4 linked regions of the Homo sapiens genome follow. The protein of the gene in region 1 interacts with the protein of each later gene in a pairwise test. Each region holds a gene or a part of one and is shown in the gene's direction. Other genes may lie near its edges. The genes, in order: SYCE1, CCDC102B, HMG20B and SPATC1L.

Region 1 (7,209 bases):
CCCGCAGCTGACAACCGGTGGAGAAACCGCACCTGCCACGGGAGGGGCCGCGGGGTGGGCTCGAGCCACCATGGGGCTGGTACAAGCACCCTCTCCGCTCAGGACCTCGGCCCTCATCCCAGGGCACCAGGGCTCACAGGGGGATGGGCCCGGGTGGGGACGAGGGTGTGGAGGGGCAGGAAGCACGGCGGGTGGAGCGGAGCCGGGTGCGGGGGTCGCGGGGGACCGCGGGGACGGGGCCTTGTGATGCAGGAGACGGAGGGGGCTGGTGACGGAGGACGGGAGGCCGCAAGGATGGGGGACGCGACATCCTTTTCCCCTCCCACCGGCTCACCAGGGATGCGCCTCCGCGACTGCCCGCCCCAATCCCAGGGCGGAGGCCTCGCGCAAAACCCAGGCGCCGCGGCTCCGCGCTCCGGCTGAGGGTCCGCGCCGCCGCCCGCCCGCTCCTTCCCGCTCGGCCGCGGCCTCAGGGACGGATACTCCAGCGCGCGGTTCCAACCGAGGCCCGTGGCGGGTAAGGCCGGGAGGCTGGGGCGGGTACGGGGCCGGGAGCGAGGGGCGGCGCGGGGAGGGGATGCAGCTGTCGCCCGCACAGCCGTGTCTGGACGCGGCCCCGCAACTCGACCCCGTCCCGCCCCCAGCCAGCTGCTGAACTAGGCGGCCGGGGACGGCATTGAGCGCTGGGCGCGCGCGGGAGGGACTGTCCCTGGGGCACGGGTCTGCTGGGGCGGAGTCCGCACGGTGTCAGCAGCCGCTTGTCCTCCGCAGCATCCGCAAGGCCCGCACCCAGGCTTTGGCCCCAAAGGTGGGGACCAGGCCCAGGCACGGCCCGTCCCCGTTCCAGACCCTGATCTGAGCCAGCTCTTGGTCCCGGCTACCGCGTCCTCCAAACACAACGCCCCTCCCCCCATGCCGCCTCCCCCCGCCCCCCACATCCCAGCAACGCGTGCAGAGCTCCCTCCCCCAGGCTTGCTCCCCCGCCCGGGCCTGGACGCCCCCAGAGGCCTGAACGCTCCTGCCCCGCTTCTACACCCCCAATCCAGGTGCACAACCTTCAGGTGCAGAACCCTCCTGCCCCTCCTGCCCCACCTGCCACTTCCCAGCGCCTCCCCCAGGCCTAAGTCCCTGATGCTAGAGGTTAAACCGCGCCCCCCCAGGCCTCAGTGGGCCTCCAAGATGCTGGGGGCACCCTGATCCCACAAAAGATGGGGGTCCCTCTGCTCTCCAGCCTTGAGCCCTCCGCCTCTGGGCACCCGATCTCCATGGAAACTAAGGGCCCTTTCCCTCTCTTCCCGCAGGTTTAGCCCCATGAAGATGAACTGGGCACCCGCGAATGGCTGGGCTCTGCTACAGGAGGCAGCCTTCCTCTGCGTGCGGCCGCGGAGGGCTCCGCGGGGGCTCGAGAGGGGCCTCGAGGGTGTGTGTGAGGCCGGCGCTGTGCTATGGTGCCCCGGGCTCCTCCCTGCGCGTGGCTGCGGCCGGGGCGGCGGGCTCAGGCTGGAGAAGGGCCGCGGGACCCGGGGAACGCGGCCTGGAGGACGAGGAGGACTGGGTTCCCGGAGGCAACAGGACCGGCTCGGCATCTACAGCTACTGTACGTGGACTTCGGGCGCTGGACCCACGGGCGGCCTGTGCCTCTGTGTCGGGCTGGGTGGCGCCCTCAGTGCCCTGGGGCTGCTGCGGCCCTAGGCCTGGCTGGGCTCGGTGACCACATCTGGCCCCCGGGCCGCACCGTCCCCCAGGATCCTCCGGCCTGGGCTCCCCCTTCCTCCCTTGCCCACAGTCTTGGAGCCCCAGTGGGTGCAGGAGCTGCTGGCTGCCCCTGTGGACCCGCCATCCACCGTCCTGCCCATGCTGCCTCGCCATCCACCTGCCTGCCCACGCCGCCTCAGCCTCCCACCTCCCACCTAGAGGAGACCATGGGCCCTGCCCCACCTGCTCCAGGATGTTAGGGTCCCCTCAGCCAAAAAGGCAGTGGCCTGTGGCTCCTGTACCAACAGCCCAGCCACACTCCAGAGCCGCCCAAAGGGAGGTGCCAAGGCCAGGAACCCAAGCCACCCCAGCTCCCCATGCCTGCCCAGGGGCCGTGGTAACCCATGGACAGGGAGGTGACCTCAGGCTGGTTCTGCCACTGAGGCCCTGAGGAATCAGGCCCTCCCCAAAAGAAGTAATGAAATGGACCAAAGGACTTAAGAATTTGGGGGGAAGTAAGGGGAAAACGTTAGGTGCTAACCACCTGCCCAGAAGAGTGGATCTCACAGCCCAGGAACATTCCCAAGCAGGAAAACCATCCGTCCAGGAACCCTAACCCTAAAACTAAGCACAACCCCTACCCCTAACCCCTGACCCTAACGCTGACCCTTAACCATAACCCTTAACCCTAACCACTAACGCAAAACACTAACCCTTAACCCTAACCCCTAACACCTAACCCCCACCTCAAGCACTAAACCCTAAGCCTAAACCTTAACCCTAACTGCTAACACTAACCCATAACCCTAAGCCCTAGCCCCAACCCTAAACTTGACCCTGAACCCAAGCCTCCAACCCAACCCCGACACAAACCCCTAACCCTAACCCCTAATTCTAGCCCTAATCCCTAAATCCAACACCAACCCTTGACCGGACCCCTGACCCCTAACCCTAACCTCAACTCATAACCTCAACCCCTACTCCTACACCTAACCCCTACCCTAATGCTAGCCATAAACCTAACACCCAAACCCAAACTCGAACCTATGCCTACCCCTAAAACCCTAGCCCGAACCGTAACCACAAATCCTAACACACAACGCTACCCCTAAACCTACCACTACCCCACCCCAAACCCTGACACCGAACCCTGAAGCTAACCCTAACAACACTAAGCCTAACCTGCAACCCTTAACCCAACTGTAACTCCTAATGCTAACCCTAACCCTAACCCTAACAACACTAAGCCTAACCCCTAACCCTTAACCCAACTGTAACTCCTAATGCTAACCCTAACCCTTAACTCTAACCCCTTACCCTAAACTGTAACCCCTAACCCTAATCCCAACCCCAACACGTAACCCTAACCCCTATCCCCTACCCTAAAACCCTAACCCTTACAAACCTTAGCCAAATCCCAAACCCTAACCCCCACCCCTGACCCTAATCCCCTAGCCCCCAAACCCTAACCCCAATACCCTAACCCCAACACTAAAACCCTGACCCTAACCGTAAAACCCTACCCCTACCCCGACCCTAGCCCAACCCTAACCCTACCCCAATCCTTCCCCTACCCCTAACACTAACCCCAAACCCTAATTCTAACCCCACTCCTAACCCCAAAACTAACTTCTAACCCCTAAACCCTAACCCCAACCCCAACTCTAACCTTAATCCCTAGCTCTAATCTGTAGCCCTAACCCTAAACCCTAAGGTAACCTTTTATAGGTTAGGATTCGAGGCTTCGTATTTAGGACAGGCAGGTGTTCTGATGTCTCCCACTCACCTGCACGGTAAAGTTCTTCCCCTGGCTCTTCACAACCAGTCGCGATGCATCGCGGCCTCCCCTGGCCGGTGAAGGGCTGGGTTCTCCCGAAAGCCTCTGCTCCTCCTCCCTCCTCCCAGGGCCCTCCGGGCCTCCACGGTGGCCCCAGCGCGGCAGGGACCGTGCAGAAGGGACCGTGGGCTTGTGGCCGGCCTCGGCCACTGTGGGCATGGAGCTCACGGGAACGCGGCCTAGGGGCAGGCTACGCTCCTCTGCGCGCGCAGGAACAGCGGGCCCAGCGGGGGCTGCCGCAGATTTCACTCGCTGGGGCCCGTGCACTCCCGCGGCGGTGTGGTCCCGCAGAGCCGCAACCTCATGAGGCTGCCAGGGCCACAGCGCCTTGTGGAGTCGTCATCCGTCAGACACGCACACTTCACAGGAAGCTTCGGCGCTACACATGCGTACTGCTCGTTGGTGGGGAGGGCCTCCAGAACCAGGGCCGGTCCCCTCGGAAGCCAGCGCACATGCGCGGGGGCACCCGGCAGCGGGCCAATCGCAAGCCTGGACGGCCGCACGTGGCCCTGGCGGGCTTCCCGCCGCGTTTGTAGCCCTCGCGCCTTTACGCATGCGCACTAGTGCCACGCAGGCCTGCCGGAGAATTACCTCACATCTCCAGGCGCGCGCAGGAGTGCATTGCGCAGGCGCGCTGCCTGGAGTCCTGCCCCCAGCGGCGGTTGCTCCAATCACCACTGGAGGCTCCCTCCCGAGGCACCCTCGCTGGCGAGCTGAGAGGAAATGGCGGGGAGGTCCCTGACATCGAAGGCCGAGCCCACCGCAGGAGCCGTGGACAGGGCTGAGAAGGCCGGAGGTAGTGGTGGGAGGCAGGGAACTGTGCGTGAGGGTCTGACCTCGCCGAGGCGGGGCAGGGTTGGGGCGCGGGTGGCGGCTGCTTCTTCCTGTCAGTCCTGATGCTGCTGATTGAGACTTAGCGGGTTTCTTCAGAAAAATTTCGGCCAAGATGAGGGAGTGCTTGCCCGCACACCCCCCACTTTGTCTTAAAGCATTGAACTGTTATCATAGTTGCTCCAATTTTGGTTTAGGTAATTAGTCAAAAGACATCCCTTCCCGTTGTCCCACAGACTTTACATACACACCTCTTAAAACAAAAAGGATATTTTCCTGACGCTCCCAATCCCAAGGGAATTCCTAATTCCACCTTCCTCTCCCTAGAACCAGCAAGTGTCCAGATTTCCCAGTCGCACTAAACTGGTTCTTGACAGTGGGGCCCCCCACCCAGCATCCCGACGCCCCGGGGAGCCGGGGGAGGCCGACTCCACGCAGATCCCCCGTTTGTTTCTCCCTGACCCCGACCTGCCATAGTGGCTCCTACCTCACCCTGGGAAGGGAGGGGACAGGCAGCTGGTCAGAGTTGTACAGAAGTCCAGAAATTGCAGCCCAACAAAGAGAAAGGACACTGTCCTGGCCGTTTCCACTTCAGGACACTGTGTGCCTCTGGGTGTTCTGTGAGGATTTTCAAACTTACAGAAAAGTGGAGAGAATTGTACGGTGACGTCCCTCCTGCTGTCACTCAGCTTGTCATTCTGTCCTGAGATCATCTGTCCCCCTTGAGTTAAAACTCTGCAATTAACAAACGTCGGTGGCTGCCTCCAGCCCTACCTGCGTGAATGCCATGGCAGGTGCTCTGTCATGTTCTTACAAAATGAAGGTTTGAATACTGAAACAAGCTTAGCACAGAAAGCATCCCTACAGTGAGATGTGGCACAGTGAAAGCCCCAGCGAAGGACAAAGCAAGTAAACAGGACAGACGCAAACGTATCCCTTTCATTAAGCACCTGCTGGCCCGCCGGTGTGCTAGCCTTTCAGTATCATGGCTCCATGTTCCTCACATAACCTAGTATATTTAGGTAAGTTTTAACCAATGTCGCTTGTGCCTTAGTTCAAACTGCTACAACAGAAATGCCTTATTTCTCACAGTTTTCGAGGCTAGAAGTTCAAGATCAAGGTGCAATTCAGCGTCTGGTGGGGGCCTGCTTCCTGGCTATAGACTTCTGTCTTCTCATTGTGTCCTCATGTTGGGGAAGTTGCTGCAGACCTCTCTGGTCTTATAAGGGCACTAATCCCATTGCTGAGGGCCCTACTCTCATGACCTAATCACCTCCCAAAGGCCCCACCTCCTAATGCAGTCACACTAGGGGGTTAGGATTTCAACATACGAACTATGGATGGGGGCACAAACATTCTATAGTGACCAGCTACAGAAGAAATTTAAAGGACAAGATTCCAGTTTTAGTCTATCTGTTTTAAAAAGGAAGCAGGGATGTTATCTAGGGTCAGTGACACTAGATACATTTTAGTAAAAAGTCTATTAGTCTTCACCTAACTGGCTGCAGTTATTACTAGAAAGGGGAATGACTGGGGAAAGGGAATGTTGGTGTTTCAATTTTTTCTTCATACTTTTTCACACATGCCAATTACTTGAATAATTTAAAACTTAATGCAAAAATTTATGAGCAGTAATTTGTGTAAGATTTCAGGTGGGACCAAAATGAGGGGACTCCATAAACTCAAAAATAAGCATTTCACAAAATTTTATGCTTGATTTTTTTTTTTTTTTGAGACGAGATTGTGCTTTGTTGCCCAGGCTGGAGTGCAGTGGTACAATCACTGCTCACTGCAGCCTTGACCTCCTGGCCTCAAGAGATTCTCCCACCTCAGCCTCTTGAGTAGCTGGAATCACAGGTACATGTCACCATGCCCAGATAATTTTTTTAAATTTTTTATTTGTAGAGAGAGGGTCTTGCTGCATTGCTCAGGCTGCTCTTGAACTCCTATGCTTGAGCAGTCCTCCTGCCTCAGTCTCCCAAAAGTGCTGGGATTATGGATGTGAACCACTGAGCCTGGCCTTATGCATGTATGCATGATTTTTAATGGCTGTAAATGATTTCATCCTGTGTATGTGCTATAATTTATTTAACAAATCCCCTAAGGCATATTTAGGCTTCTTCGAGTTTTTCACTATTATAAACAATACAGTGATGAACACCTTGCCCATTAGCCATATCCAGAATTACTTAGGACATAGTCTTAGAAAATAAGATGCACCCAAACTTTTGATATTTACTATCAGAAAGTTTGTAAGGAGACACCTTAATTTTGCATATCTGGTTGACAAAGATAAACACGTTTGGAAACATAGGTGATTGGTAAAAATGAAAAACTGGGCATCTTGTATACATCAGTGTAAGGTAATTTGGTATTGTCAATCAAAACTGTTACAAACTTTGGTCAGGTGCCTCTGAGCCTTCTCAACCGTGCCTCGGCCTTGGCCTTGGCCTGTGATATGGTTTGGATCTGTGTCCTCACCCAAATATGTTGAATTGTAATCCCCAATGTTGGAGTTGGGGCCTGGTGGGAGGTGGTTGGATCACAGGAGACCAATTTTATTTAGATAGTGACTACCTATCTTTTAACTGGATCTCTGAGCTCTGGGAAGAGGCCACACTGAATCCTGGGTCTGCAAAAAGGGAGAATTATTATGAGGCTCGACCACATGGATGCTTTTACAGTGTACTTAAAAAACATTAAAAAAATATTTCTAAGTGTCTAAAATATACTCTTCCTTAAAAATGCAGGAGTAGCTTCTGTTGCAATAATTAATAAACAAAAAAATCAGGTAACACAATACAAAAGCAAACAGTTTAGGAGCTGACATGAACTTGTGTGTTTAC
Region 2 (2,646 bases), on another chromosome or scaffold:
AAGGGACCCAGTATATATGAATGTTCAGAGCATCACAGGGCTGGAGACAATATAAATACTCATGGAAAGGAGGGTAGGTATATATGTCATGGCATAGTAATGCAGTGCTATAATAGAGAGGACAAAGAGACCACAGATGAAACATTACTGTAGATGAGTCTTAGCTGTTGGATTTAAAAAGCAAGAATATTACATATAGCATGAAATACCTTTTTTAATTAAAACAATTAAAATGATACATTTTCAATAATATATATAAATATATTTCACATATATATATATATACACTTAGCATATGTATATGTGAATATGTATACATACACGTGTATTTTGTTCAAAGCCATGGGAATAAAAAACACAAGTTATAGTTCAGTGACTTATAGCTAGGGGAGGCAAGAGGGGAAATGGGAGAAGAGTGGCTACATAGAAAGGATTTTGTCAAATATTTCAGAGATCATTTTGAGGTTTATTACTGAATATGTACATTAACTCTATTAAAATAAATGAATATTTTCATTTATTCATGCACATATACAAAAGAAACTCACACATACACTACTGGTAAGTTACTGTCATACAAACATATACCTTGTTTTTAAAGAGTTACTTTATTTCAACTACTTTTTTTTTTCATTAAGAGCTTTTCTTATTAAGATGGAGATAGAAAGCTGTGTCTTATATAGAATGGATCCTCATGTTTTTCAATTTAAATTTTATTTTTAAATTGACAAGTAAAATTTGTACATATTTATGATATACAACATGATGTTTTTCTAAATGTGTACATTGTAGACTAGCTAATCAAGCTACTTAATATATGTACTATTTCAAATACTTATAGTTTTGTGGTGAGAATACTTACAATCTATTCTCTTAGCAATTTTTAAGAATATGATAAGATGTTATTTACTATAGCCACCATGATGTACTATAGAACACTTGAACCTAACTAAAGCATTTTCTACTTCGCTTTCAGCTTGATGATTCCCTGAATCAGATCCGTAAGCTCCAGAGGTCTCTGGATGAAGAGAAAGAAAGAAATGAAAACTTAGAGACTGAACTCAGGCACTTGCAAAACTGGTAATTTTTTCACAAAATATGCTGAATTAAAGATTAGGGCCTTAAAGACATTTCCATATCCTTTTCTTAAATATCAGTAAAATTGTTTTTATTAACTAGAAATATTAATGAAAAAAACGTAGACAATACACAAATTAATGGGCTTCTTCACTTCTTCTAATTTTTGCCTAACAGATACTGCATATTCTCAAAAAGACAATTTAAATGTCATTTAAAAACAACTTTAATTCTAAGATGTGTAAATATTTTGAAAGTCAAAAAGGGCTTTCAGAATACTTTTTACATAAAATCTGAAAGAGTTATAATATCGGTAAGAAAAAGTAAGTTGAAAACCATACAAGACGCTGGGTCATTAATAAGAAAACCATTGACTTTAAGTATAAAGTACTGGTTTGTTTAAATAATTGGTAAACTTTTATGTACGTGTTGTCTATGTGGTGGGGATGGCAGGTTGTATTAACAAAAATGAATCATTCTAGAGGTGTAACAATACATTTCTTATATAATTTTATAAGTCATTTCTAATCTTTGTATAAAACAGAAGTGAGCAGATGAATCAGAAAAAAGTGTTTTGTATTTTAAAGTAACAGATAACCAGTGATTGAATCTAAGACAGGCTGTAAGCATCGCTGAGAAACTAAAAGGACTTTTGACTTTTATCTGGATAGACATTTCTACAGTAAAATCATGGAAAGGCATCAGCATTGCAAAGTAGCATCTAGGTAGAAATCAGGCCAAAATTAAGCTGTGGTTTCCCTCTGAGTAGTGGGAATAGAGAAAATTAGGAAATTGTGGTTATGTGAATATTTCTTTAAAACTTTTATGTACATTATAGTTTATTGCTTCATATTTAAGTTTAGTTTTTAAGGTAAAATGTTATTTTGAACAAAAAGACACTTATAATTTTCCATACCTATTTTCAACTGAAGGCAACTTGTAAGATTTAACTCAGTCAATAACATACTGGTTTTACTCATCTCCCCCTCCATTGATTAGCCAAAAAAAAATGAAATCTTACTAATTCATTATTGAATAAAGACCACTTTTATCAGAGTCTCTCATTGTAAAAGCCTTTGTCATTCACTGAGTCTTCACTTTTTCCCTGTTTCTCTCCCAAACATGGGGGATTGTATGACTAATAGGAACGCAGCACTGAGGGGCAAAGAGGCCCGATCTTCAAGTGCGCACTGGTGTGTGTTTGCTAGGCTGTGTAGTAATGAAATCTATCTTGTCGCTGGGTACTCTTGCTGGGTTCTGATGCTTAAATGTGAACTTCCTTCTCTTTGCTTAACACTCCTCCTGTGAACTGGATCCATCTCAGTGCTTTCTGGTATGACCTCCTCTATCCCATCATATCCCCTGTCAACCAACTGACTGAGCAATTCATCCAGATGGAGCCTTGAGGATGGGCCGCAGGTCAAGGTCTCATCTCAGTCACAATCCCATATGAGAACCAAATACAGTTTGGAGAAGCTAAATATTAGGGTTCCCCTTGCCTGACCATGTTTCTCTGCTTTTCTGTGGCTGTGCCCCAAGTGGGTGTGGGGCAACTGGCAAGGCGTCTTC
Region 3 (7,852 bases), on another chromosome or scaffold:
GCTTACAATTGAAACTCTGGGAATTCAAAATTAACATCCTTGCCCATGAGCTTCTTATAGACACCAGAAAAAGTTTCAACCTTGTGTTCCATATTGTTCTGCTGTGCCTTGTCCAAATGAACCTTTATGAGCCGGCTGCCATCTAGTTTCACGCAGATTCTCTAGAGTTTCAACTGTAAGCAAAAATGACTAAATAAAAAATATATATTCACGTTAAAAAAATTTTTTTTTTTTTTTTGAGACGGAGTCTCGCTCTGTCCCAGGCTGGAGTGCCGTGGCGGGATCTCCGCTCACTGCAACCTTTGCCTCCCGTGTTCAAGCTATTCTCCTACCTCAGCCTCCCAAGTAGCTGGGATTACAGGTGCCCGCCACCACGCCCGGCTAATTTTTGTATTTTTAGTAGAGATGGGGTTTCACCATGTTGACCAGGCTGGTCTCGAACTGTGGACCTCGTGATCCTCCCACCTCAGCCTCCCAAAGTGCTGGGATTACAGGTGTGAGCCACCGTGCCTGGCAATTTTTGTGTTTTTAGTAGGGACAGGGTTTCTCCATGTTGGCCAGGCTGGTGTCAAATTCCTGACCTCCAGCGATCCACCCACCTCGGCCTCCCACAGTGCTGGCATTACAGGCGTGAGCCACCGCGCCCAGCCCACGTCTTTATTAGGAATACGCACATGTGTACGTGTGTAGGCATGTGCTGTGGGTGGAGTCATGTCCCCACAGAATGCACAGGTTCCTGTCCTAATCCCCAAGGCCTCAGAATGTGACCGTATTTGGAAAAAGGTCATTGCAGATATAATGAGTTAAGATGACATCATTAGGGTGGGCCGTGACGCAGTATGACTGCTGTCCTTATCAAAAGAGGAAATTTGGGTGCAGACACGCACATAGGGAGAACCCCACATGAAGATGCAGGCAGACATCGGGGTGTCACTCCTACAAGACAAGAAAAGCCCAGGATTGCTGGCCAATGCCAGAAACTGGGAGACGCCAGGGACAGATTCTCTCCCCGCCCTCAGAAGGCCCCAGCCCTACCCACACCTTCCTCTTGGACTTCTGGCCTCCAGAACTGTGAAACAATAAATTTCTCTTGTTTAAGCCCCTCAGTTTGTCGTAATTATTACCTAGCAAACCAATGCAGTGTGGTGTGCGTGTGTGTGTGTGTGTGTGTGTGTGTGTGTGTGAGTGTGGCTAGGAAAAATTTTAAAAAGAGATGCGGCCGGGTACAGTGGCTCACGCCTGTAATCTCAGCACTTTGGGAGGCCAAGGTGGGCGGATCATCTGAGGTCAGGAGTTCAAGACCTGCCTGGCCAACATGGCAAAACCCCGTCTCTACTAAAAATACAAACATTAGCTGGGTTTGGTGGCACGTGCCTGTAATCCCGGCTACTCAGGAGGCTGAGGCAGGAGAATCACTTGAACCTGGGAGGCGGAGGTTGCAGTGAGCAAAGATCACGCCACTGCACTCCAGCCTGGGCGAATGAAACTCTATCTCAAAAAAAAAAAAAAGAAAAAAAAAAGGCCTGGCACAGTGGCTCACGACTGTAATCCCAGCACTTTGGGAGGCCAAGGCGGGTGGATCACAATGTCAGGAGATCGAGACCATCCTGGCTAACACGGTGAAACCCCATCTCTACTAAAAAATACAAAAAAATTAGCCGGGCGTGGCAGCGTGTACCTGTAGTCCCAGCTACTTGGGAGGCTGAGGCAGGAGAATGGTGTAAACCCGGGAGGTGAAGCTTGCAGTGAGCCGAGATCGCGCCACTGCACACTAGCCTGGACGACAGAGCGAGACTCTGTCTCAAAAAAAAAAAAAAAAAAAAAAAAAAAGCAATAAGCTGACGATAGGAAATGTAATGAAATTAAAGAGGTCTGAGCTGCACTTCCTTAATTCTGTACAAGTGAAATGGATGTGAACATGATTTGCATAATAAAAATTAATTAGAAAACCAAAGAATTATAAGGCAAGTCATCCTTAATGGAGAGCTTCCACCTCTAGGATTATAAATTGGTATACTGTTCCTGGCTTCATGCTATAAAAACTGGCAAATAAATCATAGTAATAAATGACAAAAAACAAACAAAAAGGCCGGGCGCAGTGGCCCACCCCTGCAATCTAGCACCTTGGGAGGCCGAGACGGGCGGCCACCTGAGGTCAGGAGTTCAAGACCAGCCTAGCCAACATGGTGAAACCCTGTCTCTACTAAAAAAAAAAAAAAAAAAAAAATTAGCCGAGCGTGGTGGCGGATGTCTGTAATCCTAGCTACTTGGGAGGCTGAGGCAGGAGAATCGTTTGAACCCGGGAAGCAGAGGTTGCAGTGAGCCGAGATGGTGCCACTGCACTCCAGCCTGGGCGGCAGAGCAAGACTCCATCTCAAAAAAATAAAATAAAATAAAATAAAATAAATAAACAAAATAAAATAAATGTTCAATTAAATTGTTATTGACTATGGCCGGGAGGGGTGGCTCCACACCCAGCCTCACCTAGACTATTTTTAAGTGAGCAGAGAGACACAGGGGAGGCCTGGGAGGTCAGAGAGCTGATTAAGCAACAGAGCCAGGTCTGGCGTGTGGAACCGTCCAGATTCCAGGGCCAGCTCCTCTTCCTCAGCCCCGGGCTGCATCTTAGGACAATGGGCTTATTGAGACTTAACTCACATATAATGCACCCATTTAGAGCATACAATTCCATGGTTTGTAATATATTTCCAGAGTCACGCAGCCATCACTGAAATCAAATTGTAAAATACTTTCATCACCCAAATGAAAACCGCATCCCTCTCAGTGGTCATTCCCCACCCACTGGCACCCACACGTCCCCCTCCTGTCTCTGTGGATGGGCCTTTCCTGAACATTCTGATCACACACTGTGTGACCTTTGTGTCTGGCGTCTCTCACTGAGTGTGATGTCTTCTAGGTACATCCATGCTGTGACTTGTGTCAGAGACTCGCTCCTTTTTTTTATGGCTGATAATATTCTTTTTTTTTTTTTTTGAGACGTAGTCTTGCTCTGTTGCCCAGGCTGGAGTGCAGTGGCACAATCTTGGCTCACTGCAACCTCTGCCTCCCAGTTCATGGGATCCTCCTGCCTCAGCCTCCCATGTAGCTGGGATTACAGGCGTGCACCACCACGCCTGGCTAGTTTTTGTATTTTTAATAGAACTGGAGTTTCACCATGTTGGCCAGGCTGGTCTCGAACTCCTGACCTCAAGTGATCCGCCTGCCTCCCAAAGTGCTGGGATTACAGGCGTGAGCCACTGCGCCCGGCCCATGGCGGATAATATTCTGTTGTAAGGATATATCCCGTCATCGATCCATGCATCATTAGCAGACGTTTGAGTTGTTTTCACTTTTTGGCTATTATGAATCACGCTGCTACCGACGCTTGTGTACACGCTTTTGTTTGAACACCTGTTTTCAGTTGTCTGGAGTATATTCCTAGGAGTGAACTGCTGAATTGCATGGTGATTCCACATTTATTTAACCCTTTGAGGAAATGCCAGTCTGTTTTCCAAAGCAGCTGCATCTGCCTCCTAGACATCTGAAGGATTCAATGAATGTGTATTGAGCATCCACCATGGGCAATGCTGTGAACCAAACAGGCAGGCCACAGGGAGAAGCCGACTTATGGAGGCAAAAAAAAAATCAGAGAAGGCCTGGCTGAGCAAGTGACATTTAAGCGGACTTGAGGAAGAGGAAGTGGGCCGGGCGTGGGGGCTCACGTCTGTAATCCCACCACTTTGGGAGGCCGAGGCGGGTGGATCACGAGGTCAGGAGTTCAAGACCAGCCTGGCCAAGATGGTGAAACCCTGTCTCTACTAAAAATACAAAAATTAGCCGGGCGTGGTGGCAGGCGCGTGTAATCCCAGCTACTCGGGAGGGTGAGGCAGAGAATTGCTTGAACCCGGGAGGCAGAGGTTGCAGTGAGCCGAGATCCAGCCACTGCACTCCACCCTGGACGACAGGGTGAGACTCCGTCTCAAAAACAAAAGAGGAGGTGAGCAGCCCCAACTTGGGCCAGAAGCCTAGACTGCTGCTGGGAGGTCCCTGATCCACCAGAGCGGAGCCTCCTGACCCATCCTCACGAAGTCCTTGCCATCTCCCTTCACCACCATCTTTCCCCAAACACTTCCAGCCCAGCTCCCAACCCCACCCCCTGCCTGACCCACACCCAGTTCTCAGCTTCCCAGCATCCCAGTCTCTCTGTCCTGGATATCGTGTGATGTCCCCGTTGCACAGGGGGGAAAGCCGAGACCCCAGAGGGAGAGCAGCCCCTATGGCCAGAAGCCCTCGGATCCGGACGTCGGGGGCTCTAAACTGAGTAAATACATAGGAAACTTCTCCGCTAGGTTTTGCAGGATGTTAAGAACAGGTCCCACCTTGCCTAGGGCTGGGGACTGCCTCGCAGGACCTTAACCCTAGCAACCCACCTCCGTCCCCATGGCAACCGGGGCGGGGCCCGACCCGGATCCGCCGGTCGCCCCATCCGGCAGCGGCTGGGAGTCTTGCCTTCAGAGAGGGAGGAGGAGTCCGCGCCTCTCCTACTGGCCCTTTAAGAGGCTCCGCCCGGCAAGTCCGCCACTCGCTCCCGATTGGTCCCGAGCGCGGCCGAGCGCAGCCGAACTTGACGCACCGCCCGCAGCCTTCCTTACCAACCTCCCACGCGACTCAGCAACCTCCCCAACCAATCGCCGGCCGGCGCGCCGATCGGTATCTGCATGGGCTCGCCCGGGGGGAAGGTCTCACCCAATGGGACCGTTCGCCGAGGCCTTCATTAGCATGCCGGGGGCGGGGAGGGGCGGGGCGGCCGACGGGGGCGGGCTGCGGGCGGTTGGTTGGAGCGTCGCGCAGTCGGGAGGTCCGGGAAAGTTTCTTTGGAGGTGAAAACAGCCGCGGAACTCCGGGCCCTGAGAGGGGGCGGGGGTGCAGGGGTCCCAGGGCCGGGCCGGGGTCTTTCCTGGCCCGGGGGAAACCGGCCCAGGCCTCCCGGGGGGGGCAATCGCCCAACAAAGGATTCTTGGGGCGCCCGCCCTCGAGGACTTCCCTGCCCCTGGATCCGGCCCCCCCAGCGCTCCGGGCCCGGCATCCCGGGGCTCTCCATCGCGGGGTACCCCAGTTCGCGGTCTGCCATCGGGCAGCCCGGGCGCTACTCACCTCCGCCCGCGTCCGTGTTCCAGGTCCGGCCCGGAGCGGCCATGTCCCACGGCCCCAAGCAGCCCGGCGCGGCCGCCGCGTGAGTGCACTGATCCCCTCCCCACGCCCTCGCTACTTTCCCGGCTGCAGCCCTAGCTCCTGAACCCCTGACCCAGTCCCTCCCGCCGGAGTCTTGACTCCCCCACCTGGGTCAGGGGGCTTCTCCCTCCACCCAATTCTGCACCCCCCACCTCGGCCTCCAGTCCCTCCCAGGAGCCCCGCTTGTCCCACCTTCCCCGGATACTGACCCCATCAGACCCTGCCTCCTCGGGCTCATGCACTCTCGCTGCAGCCCCGCCGTCGGGGGTCAAAACGCCCTGGGGTGGGCTTTTGGGGGAGGGGAGATTCTTGGGACGGGGCTGACCGCGGTATCCTTGGCTCCAGGCCGGCGGGCGGCAAGGCTCCGGGCCAGCATGGGGGCTTCGTGGTGACTGTCAAGCAAGAGCGCGGCGAGGGTCCACGCGCGGGCGAGAAGGGGTCCCACGAGGAGGAGGTGAGAGTCCCTGCGCTGAGCTGGGGGAGGCCCCGGGCTCCCGCCCCAGCCTCGAAGCCCCGCCCCAGGCTGGATTTGAATTGCTTGTGGCTCCGCCCACAGCCCATTTTCCTCTGGAAGCTGAGACCCCGCCCCGTGCCAGCTGCCACGCCCCTGACAGGTCCTCTGCCACTCTAAGTCCAGGCCCCGCCCACCGCACAATGCCAGCTCTGCCCACTCTAAGGTCCCGCCCACTTCCACTCCTTGGGGGCGGCACCCTCCCCTTGGTCCTGTGGGCCCGTTCTCCAGCAGAAAACCACGCCCACCAAGCAGAGGCCACGCCCACAACCGAAGTCAACGCCAACCCTGTACTCAAACCTCGGCCCATAGTTCCTCAGATCCCCTCACCCCTGGCCAGGGATCCCTCTAACCCACCGTGTCCCGACTGCTGACCGGGCCCTACCTCCATCTTTTCCGGGTTCTTCCTCCCAGCTAGGCCCCGCCCCCATCCCCGCCCATACGCGTTAGGCCCCGCCCATGCCCCTCTGAGCCCTGCCCCAGTACGCCAGGCCCCCCTCCCAACGACGCAGCCCGGTTCTGCAGCCGGTGAAGAAACGCGGCTGGCCCAAGGGCAAGAAGCGGAAGAAGATTCTGCCGAATGGGCCCAAGGCACCGGTCACGGGCTACGTGCGCTTCCTGAACGAGCGGCGCGAGCAGATCCGCACGCGCCACCCGGATCTGCCCTTTCCCGAGATCACCAAGATGCTGGGCGCCGAGTGGAGCAAGCTGCAGCCAACGGAAAAGCAGGTGGGCGGGGCGGGGCGCCGAGCAGGGCTGGCGGGGTCCACGGACTACCCCCCAGTAGCCCCGACCCCCAAAGGATTCCACGTGCAGGGTTTTTCCTTCTTCCTGGAGAAATGCCCACCCATAACCAACTTTTTTTTTTTTTTTTTTTGTGAGATGGAGTCTTGCTCTGTTGCCCAGGCTGGAGTGCAGTGGCGTGATCTCAGCTCACTGCAACCTCCGCCTCCCGGCTTCAAGCAATTCTCCTGTCTCAGCCTCTCAGGTAGCTGGGATTACAGGCGCGTGCTACCATGCCCTGCTAATTTTTGTATTTTTAGTAGAAATGGGGTTTCGCCATGTTGGCCAGGCTGGTCTCGAACTCTTGACCTCAAATGATCCGCCCACCTCAGCCTCCCAAAGTATTGATATTAAAGGCGTTAGCCACCGTGGCCAGCCCATGACCAGCTTTTGGGGGCGCGGCTAGCAAGAGGCAAGACAGATTGAAAACTGGATGACCAACAAAGATATGTCTAAGAAGTCAGGATGGGGCCTGGATTTTTTGCGAAACCCGATTTTCATATCCTGTTAGTTTAAAAATTGCAAAAACATCACGGAAATGTAACAAAAGCCATCACTGCTTTGCATCCCTGTAAGTGAGATTTCAAAGAGAGAAACGGGTGCGGGAGGGAGTCCAGGCATCCGCATACGCTGGAGGTTGGGTTCCTGCCCATGACTCTGGCGTCCGGGAGTGGTTTGTCAGGGCTGGAGGTGGGGAAGAGTCCGGGGCATGGGAAGTGAGGTGGGAGCTCGGAGGTCCCTGAGCAACAGGCTGAGGAGCCGGTTCTGTCTGCCTGGAGGGAATAGGGAGCTATAGAAGGTTCAGGAGAGGGGAGGGTGCTGTGAAAGCAGAGTGATAAAGACTGGATCCTGGCGTTGGAGGCTTCCCCTGCTTCAAGCCTTCTGGTGCTGCCCCCCAGCGGTACCTGGATGAGGCCGAGAGAGAGAAGCAGCAGTACATGAAGGAGCTGCGGGCGTACCAGCAGTCTGAAGCCTATAAGATGTGCACGGAGAAGATCCAGGAGAAGAAGATCAAGAAAGGTGGGAGGGGTCGGGCGCGGTGGCTCACGCCTGTCATCCCAGCACTTTGGGAGGCCGAGGCGGGTGTATCACCTGAGGTCAGACCAGCCTGGCCAACATAGTGAAACCCTCCCCCTCTACTAAAAATACAAAAATTACCTGGGCGTGGTGGCGGGTGCCTGTAATCCCAGCTACTCGGGAGGCTGAGGCAGGAGAATTGCTTGAACCCGGGAGGTGGAGGTTGCAGTGAGCCAAGATTGCGCCATTGCACTCTAGCCAGGGCGACAGGGCGAGACTCCGTCTCAAAAAAAAAAAAAAAAGAAAAAG
Region 4 (7,036 bases), on another chromosome or scaffold:
GAGCGAGCGTGTCTGGAAGCAAAGAGGGGAATCCATGGCATCGTCCCCACACCTTTGGTCTCTGGTGACAGGCAGGGGCTCCTCGCAGGGAGCTGGGAGGAGAGCACCTCGCCAGGATGTGCGGGGACAGTGTGGCTGGGGAACCTGGCGCCTGGGGGCCATGCTGTGCGAGGCCCCAGGTTCTGCGTCTCCATCAGCGGCCACTGAGCCCCACGCTCACCACAGGGCGTTTGCTGGGCAGACCTGCGCTTACGGTGCTGGGCCACGTGCAGGGTCCCGTTCACAGCACTTGTGAGGCCCGGGCACTGTGGCTGCAAAAGGGCCCTTAATCTGTTTGGCGTGTGTGGACCGCCGCAGGCTGCGTGCCCCGGGCTGCGTTGCTGTCCTCCTCCTCAAGAAGGAATCACCCTGGGCCGGACCTCAGGGCTGGACAGAGTGCTGGTGCCTCCCCTGGCAGGAGAGGGGCAGACCCTCAACCCTTGCCCAGGCTGTGCAGTCCCCAGAGGGACCCTTGTCAGGGGCTGAGTCCGGGCGGGGTCTCCATGACCACGGCTGCTGCCCCTGCCCTTGGGTCATCTTGGCAAACCCAGGTCTTGCTGGACACGGGTCTTGGGAGGAGCCTCAACCTGAGGCCAGCAGGCCTTCCACAGAGGGCCTTGGAGCCCCCGCCACAGGGTGTGGGGCAGGCTCAGTGTGGCCCGGGCTGGCAGCGGGGAGGGGCCTGGACAAGACCACCCTCTAAACTCTGCCACTTGAGTGGCAGCGTGTGGTGCACCCTTAATGCTCTGGGCCTCAGCATGTGCTTGGGAATGTACCTGGGGCTGTGGGACGCTGCATTCAGGACCAGCCCTCAGCAGAACTGGGGTTGGGAAGACCAGCACTGAGCTTCTGCAAAAAAGGAGAAGTTTATAAACAAAGGAACCACCACCAGCAATGTCTGCATGTTGCCAAGACTTCATTAGCATCTGTGTTCAAAACAGGATGAGTAAAAACCTGCTTTTCTTACGGATTCAACAACACGTGCTCATGGTAAACTTATAAACGCCATGGAGGGTGCAACGTTTAAGCCTCAGGCCACGCCTCCGGCCCCCTCCGCAAAGGCAGCCACAATCAACGTTCTCTTGGGTTTTCTCTGGAACTTTAGTGGAGATCTGTGTGTCTGTCTGTGTATCTTTTTGGTCCACCTACACGGGATTGTGCTGTTCCGCAACTTGACTTTTCCCCCTTAACGATCCATTTCGCGGCATTCCCCACCAGTCCTTATCTGCAGATCTCCCCGGCACACTTGAACACTGGGCTCCTTCTGTGGGGGCCCCAGGCAGGCAGCACTGTTCCCAGTTCTCTGCGACCGTGGACGCCGCCGCCGTGGGTGGCCTGCGCAGGCGCCCTGTGGCTTTGTGTAGGGGATCCCACACCTGGGTCCTCGGGTCAAAGGCTGTGTGCATTTGAAATGTTGAAACAGACACTGTCAAACGCTCTCTGAACGGTCCCTACACCCCACTGATGGAGGAGGAGGGCACTGCGCCGGCATCGTTCCCACGTCACAGGAGGGCTCATCTGTCCCCGTCAGCTGGGGAGCGAGGTCTCCAGGTCTTCTCACCCAGGTTTACAAGTGAGTGACGCGAAGGGCCAGTGGGAGCAGCAGTCCTCTGCCTCCCCTCCCAGCTGCCCCATCTCGTCTCCCTCGGGATTGTCCTGGTCCCTCCAGCACGGCCACGATGCCACTCGCCGTGTCTCCACTGGAGAGGTGTCCCCTGGAGGACAGCCAGGCCCCCCCAGATTGCCCACTCGCTCCCTAGTTGTTGGTGGTGGATTGTCAGATGATTTCCAACAGTGGTGAGAATTCTCTATGTGCAACTCCTGGTCACTCCTTCCGTCTGACATGACAGAAGATTGTCCCTGTGTTGTTAGGTGTACTTTAAAATGGCCCTGCAATATTGCCGATTCGGATGAACCACAATGTAATGAATTCTCCCTCAGTTTGAAATTAAAGTTTTTCTTCCCCTTGAGGTAAATAGCACCACAAAAAAGGTTTTAAGAATTTTTATATTTAAGGTTATTTCCATTGGATTTCTTTTTTTGGTGTGTGTGTGATTTTTTTTACTTTTATGGAGATGGGATCTTCTATGTTGCTGGTCTTGAACTCCTGGGCTTAAGGGATCCTTCTGTCTCGACCTCCTAAAATGCTGGGATTACAGGTGTGAGCCACCGTGCCTGGCCCATTATGTTTTTTTCTTTTTCAGACAGGGTCTATGTTCCCCAGGCTGGAGTGCAGTGGCAATGATCATGACTCACTGCAGCCTCGACCTCTGGGGCTCAAGCAATCCTCCTACCTCAGCCTCCTGAGTAGCTTGGACTACAGTGCTTGCCACCATGAGCGGCTAGTTAAAAATTTTTTTTTTTTTTTTGTAGAGACAGGGTCTCCCTATGTTGCCCAGGCCAGTCCCAAACTCCTGGGCTCAAGCAATTCTCCCACCTTGGCCTCCCAAACCATTGGGATTACAGGCTTGAGCCACTGTCCAGCTGGATTTATTTTTAAAAAATAGAATCATTGATTCAGAAGGCAGGAGTAAATGGTTTTTTGTTTGTTTGTTTTTGAGACACAGTCTGGCTCTGTTGCCCAGGCTGGAGTGCAGTGGTGTCATCTTGGTTCACTGCAACCTCTGCCTCCTGGGTTCAAGCGATTCTCCTGCCTTGCCCTCCCCAGTAGCTGGAATTAAAGGCACACACCACCATGCCTGGCTACTTTTTGTATTTTTAGTAGAGATGGGGTTTTGCCATGTTGGCTAGGCTGATCTTGGACTCCTGATCTCAGGTGATCCACCCACCTCGGCCTCCCAAAGTGCTGGGATTACAGGCATGAACCACTGCACCTGGCCATGTATTTCTTTTTTAAAAAACTTTTAAGTTCAGGGGTACAAGTGCAGGCTTATTACATAGGTGAACTTGTGTCATGGGAGTTTGTTGTACAGATTATTTTGTCACTCAAGTATTAAGCCTAGTACATTCGTTATTATTCCTGATCCTCTCCCTTCTCTCACCCTTCACCATCTGGTAGGTCTCAGTGTCTGTTGTTCCCCTCTATGTGTCCACGTGTTCTCGTTGTTTAGCTCCCACTTATAAGTAAGAGCATGTGGCATTTGGTTTTCTGTTCCTGCATTAGTTTGCTGAGGACAATAGCCTCCAGCTCCATCCATGTTCATGCAAAGGATATGATCTCATTCTGGTTTTTTTTTTTTTTTTTTTTTTTTGAGATGGAGTTTCACTCTTGTTGCCCAGGCTGGAGTGCAATGGCACGATCTCGGCTCGCTGCAACCTCCGCTTCCCGATTTCAAGCAATTCTCCTGCCTCAGCCTCCCAAGTAGCTGGGATTACAGGCATGCACCACCATGCCCAGCTAATTTTGTATTTTTAGTAGAGATGGTTTTCACCATGTTGGTCAGGCTGGTCTCGAACTCCTGACCTCAGGTAATCCACCTGCCTTGGCCTCCCAAAGTACTGGGATTACAGGCATGAGCCACTGCTCCCGGCTGATCTCTTTCTTTTTTATGGCTGCATAATATTCCATGGTGTCTATGTACAACATTTTCTTTATCCAATCTACCACTGATGGGCATTTAAGTTGATTCCGTGTCTTTGCTATTGTGAATAGTCTGCAGTGAACATATGCGTGCATGTGTCTCTATAATAAAATGATTTATATTCCTTTGGGTACCATTAATGGAACCCAACCAGTAATGGAATTGCTGGGTTGAATGGTATTTCTGTTTTTAGGTCTTCGAGGAATCGCCACACTGTCTTCCACAATGGCTGAACTAATTTATGCTCCCACTAACAGTGTATAGGCGTTCTTTTTCTCTGCAACGTTGCCAGCATCTGTTGTTTTTTGACTTGTTAATTATAGCCATTCTGACTGGTGTGAGATGGTGTCTCATTGTGGTTTTTATTTACATTTCTTTAATAAGCAGTGATGTTGAGCCTTTTTTCATATGCTCGTTGGCTGTATGTATGTCTTTAGAAAAGTGTTCATGTCCTTTGCCCACTTTTTAATGGGGTTGTTTGTTTTTTTCTTGTAGATTTCTTTAAGTTCCTTATAGATGCTGAATATTAGACCTTTGTCAGATGCATTAGTTTGTAAAAATTTTCTCCCATTCTGTAGGTTTGCTGTTTACTCTGTTGATAGTTTATTTTGCTGTGCAGAAGCTCTTTGATTAGATGCCATTAGTCAATTTTTGCTTTTGTTGCAATTGCTTTTAGCATCTTTGTTGTGAAATCTTTGCCCATCCCTATGTTCTGAATGGTATTGCCTAGGTTGTCTTCCAGGGTTTTTATAGTTTTGAGTTTTACATCTAAGTCTATAATCCATATTGAGTTGATTTTTGTATATGGTGTAAGGAAAGGGTCCAATTTCAGTCTTCTGCATATGGCTAGCCAGTTATCCCAGCACCATTTATTTAATAGGGAGTCCTTTCCTCATTGCTTGTTTTTGTCAGATTTGTTGAAGATCAGGTGGTTATAGGTGTGCAAACTTATTTCTGGGTTCTCTGTTCCGTTCTATTGATCTATGTACCGTGCTGTTTTGGTTATTGTAGCTCTGTAGTATAGTTTGAAGTTGGGTAGTGTGATGCCTCCAGCTTTGTTATTTTTGCTTAGGATTGCCTTGGCTATTCGGGCTCTTTTTTGGTTCCATATGAATTTTTAAACAGTTTTTTTCTAGTTCTGTGATTAATCTCAATGGTATTTTAATAAGAACAGCATTGACTCTATAAAATTACTTTGGTCAGTATGACCATTTTTATGATATTGATTCTTCCTATGCATGAACATGGAATGTTTTCCCATTTGTGTAATCTCTGATTTCTTTGAGCAGTGTTTTGTAGTTCTCCTTGTAGACATCCTCCACCTCCCTAGTTAGCTGTATTCCTAGGCATTTTATTCTTTTTGTGGCAGTTGTAAATGGGAGTTCATTCCATTTGATTTGGCTCTTGTCTTGATTGTTGTTGGTATATAGGAATGTTAGTGTTTTTTGCACATTCATTTTGTATCCTGAGACTTTGCTGAAGTTGTTTATCAGCTTAAGAATCTAGGTTGAGACTATGGGATTTTCTAGATATAAGATCATGTCATCTGCAAACAGGGATAGTTTGATTTCCTCTCTTTCTATTTGGATGGGCTTTATTTCTTTCTTTGGCCTGATTGCTCTGATCAAGACTTCCAATACTATGTTGAATAGGAGTGGTGAGAGAGGGCATTCTTGTCTTGTGCCAAGTTTTGAGGGGTTGAGTTTTGATGTTGGTTGTGAGTTTGTCATACATAGCTCTTACTATTTTGAGGTATGTTCCTTCAATACCTAGTTTATTGAGCGTTTTTAACATGAAGGGGTGTTGAATTTTGTTGAAAGCTTTTTTTGCATCTATTAAGATAATCATATGGTTTTTGCTTTAGTCCTGTTTATGTAATGAATCGCATTTATTGATTTATGTTGAACCTACCTTGCATCCCAGGGATAAAACCTATTTGATTGTGGTGGATAAGCTTTTTGATGTGCTGCTGGATTTGGTTTGCCAGAATTTTGTTGAGGATTTTTGCGTCAATGTTCATCAAATATATTGGCCTGAAGTTATCTTTTTTTGTTGCATCTCTGCCGGGTTTTGTTATCAGGATGATGCTGGCCTCATAGAATGAGTTAGGGAGGAGACTCTCCTCCTCAACTTTTTGGAATAGTTTCACCAGGAATGGTACCAGCTCTTCTTTGTACATCTGGTACAATTCAGCTGTGAATCCATCTGGTCCTGGCTTTTTTTGGTTGGTAGGCTATTTATTACTGACTCAATTTTAGAGCTTGTTATTGGTGTGTTCAGGGATTCCATTTATTCCTAGTTCAGTCTTGGGAGGGTGTATGTGTCCAGGAACTTATCCATTTTTTCTAGATTTTCTAGTTTATGTGTATAGAGGTTTTCATAATATTTTCTGATGGTTGGTTGTATTTTTGCGGGGTCAGTAGTAATATATCCCTTATTTCTGATTGTGTTTATTTGAATCTTTTCTCTTTTCTTCTTTATTAGTCTAGCTAGTGGTATATCTATTTTATTAATTTTTTCAAAAAACCAGCTCCTGGATTCATTGATGTTTTGAATAGTATTTTGTGTCTCAATCTCCTTCAGTTCAGCTTTGATTTTGGTTATTTCTTGTTTTCTGCTAGCTTTGGGATTTGTTTGCTCTTAATTCTCTAGTTCTTTTAGCTGTGATGTTAGGTTGTTTGACTGAGATCTTTCCAACTTTTTGATGTGAACATTTAATGCTATAAATTTCCCTCTTAACACTGCCCTAGCTGTGTCCCAGAGATTCTGGTATGTTGTATTTTTGTTCTCATCAGCTTCAAGGAATTTCTTGATTTCTGCCTTAATTTCACTGTTTACCCAAAAGTCATTCAGGGGCGGGTTATTCAATTTCCATGTAATTGTGTGGTTCTGAGTGAATTTTTTAGGCTTGATTTCTAACTGGGTCCGTTGTCGTCTGAGAGATTGTTTGTTATAATTCCAGTTGTTTTGCATTTGCTGAGGAGTATTTTACTTCCAATTATGTGATTGAATTTAGAGTGTGTGCCATGTGGCAATGAGAAGAATGTATATTCTATTGTTTTGGGGTGGAGAGTTCTGTAGATATCTGTCAGGTACATTTGATCCGGTGCTGAGTTCATGTCCTGAATATCTTTTTTAATTTTCTGTCTCAATTATCTGTAATACTGTCAGTATGGTGTTGAAGTCTCTCACTATTATTATGTGGGAGTCTAAGCCTCTTTGAAGGTCTCTGAGAACTTGCTTTATAAATCTTGGTGCTCTTGTGTTGGGTGCATATATATTTAGTGTAGTTAGGTCTGCTTGTTAAATTGAGCCCTTCACCATTGTGTAATGCTCTTCTTTGTCTTTTTTGATCTTCATTGGTTTAAAATCTGTTTTGTCAGAAACTATGATTGCAACCCTGCAATCATAGTTTTCCATTTGCTTGGTAGATTTTTCTCCATGCCTTTATTTTG

The links.
Region 2: the proteins of SYCE1 (region 1) and CCDC102B interact in binary tests that used the Homo sapiens proteins (3 or more experiments, as listed by UniProt).
Region 3: the proteins of SYCE1 (region 1) and HMG20B interact in binary tests that used the Homo sapiens proteins (3 or more experiments, as listed by UniProt).
Region 4: the proteins of SYCE1 (region 1) and SPATC1L interact in binary tests that used the Homo sapiens proteins (3 or more experiments, as listed by UniProt).

What each region holds. Positions count from the first base shown.
Region 1 is NC_000010.11:133,562,576-133,569,784, reverse strand, and holds the start of SYCE1 (synaptonemal complex central element protein 1), read left to right. Parts: upstream 1-4,201; 5' UTR 4,202-4,255; coding exon 4,256-4,328; intron 4,329-7,209. UniProt on the Homo sapiens protein: Major component of the transverse central element of synaptonemal complexes (SCS), formed between homologous chromosomes during meiotic prophase. Requires SYCP1 in order to be incorporated into the central element.
Region 2 is NC_000018.10:69,053,054-69,055,699, forward strand, and holds the end of CCDC102B (coiled-coil domain-containing protein 102B), read left to right. Parts: intron 1-976; coding exon 977-1,084; 3' UTR 1,085-2,136; downstream 2,137-2,646. UniProt on the Homo sapiens protein: During interphase, forms fibers at the proximal ends of centrioles to maintain centrosome cohesion. During mitosis, dissociates from the centrosome following phosphorylation to allow centrosome separation. Contributes to CROCC/rootletin filament formation.
Region 3 is NC_000019.10:3,568,115-3,575,966, forward strand, and holds the start of HMG20B (SWI/SNF-related matrix-associated actin-dependent regulator of chromatin subfamily E member 1-related), read left to right. Parts: upstream 1-4,829; 5' UTR 4,830-4,880; exon of another isoform or gene 4,881-5,177; 5' UTR 5,178-5,195; coding exon 5,196-5,233; exon of another isoform or gene 5,234-5,577; coding exon 5,578-5,686; exon of another isoform or gene 5,687-5,703; intron 5,704-6,268; coding exon 6,269-6,472; intron 6,473-7,425; coding exon 7,426-7,546; intron 7,547-7,852. UniProt on the Homo sapiens protein: Required for correct progression through G2 phase of the cell cycle and entry into mitosis. Required for RCOR1/CoREST mediated repression of neuronal specific gene promoters.
Region 4 is NC_000021.9:46,174,448-46,181,483, reverse strand, and holds part of SPATC1L (speriolin-like protein), read left to right. Parts: intron 1-7,036.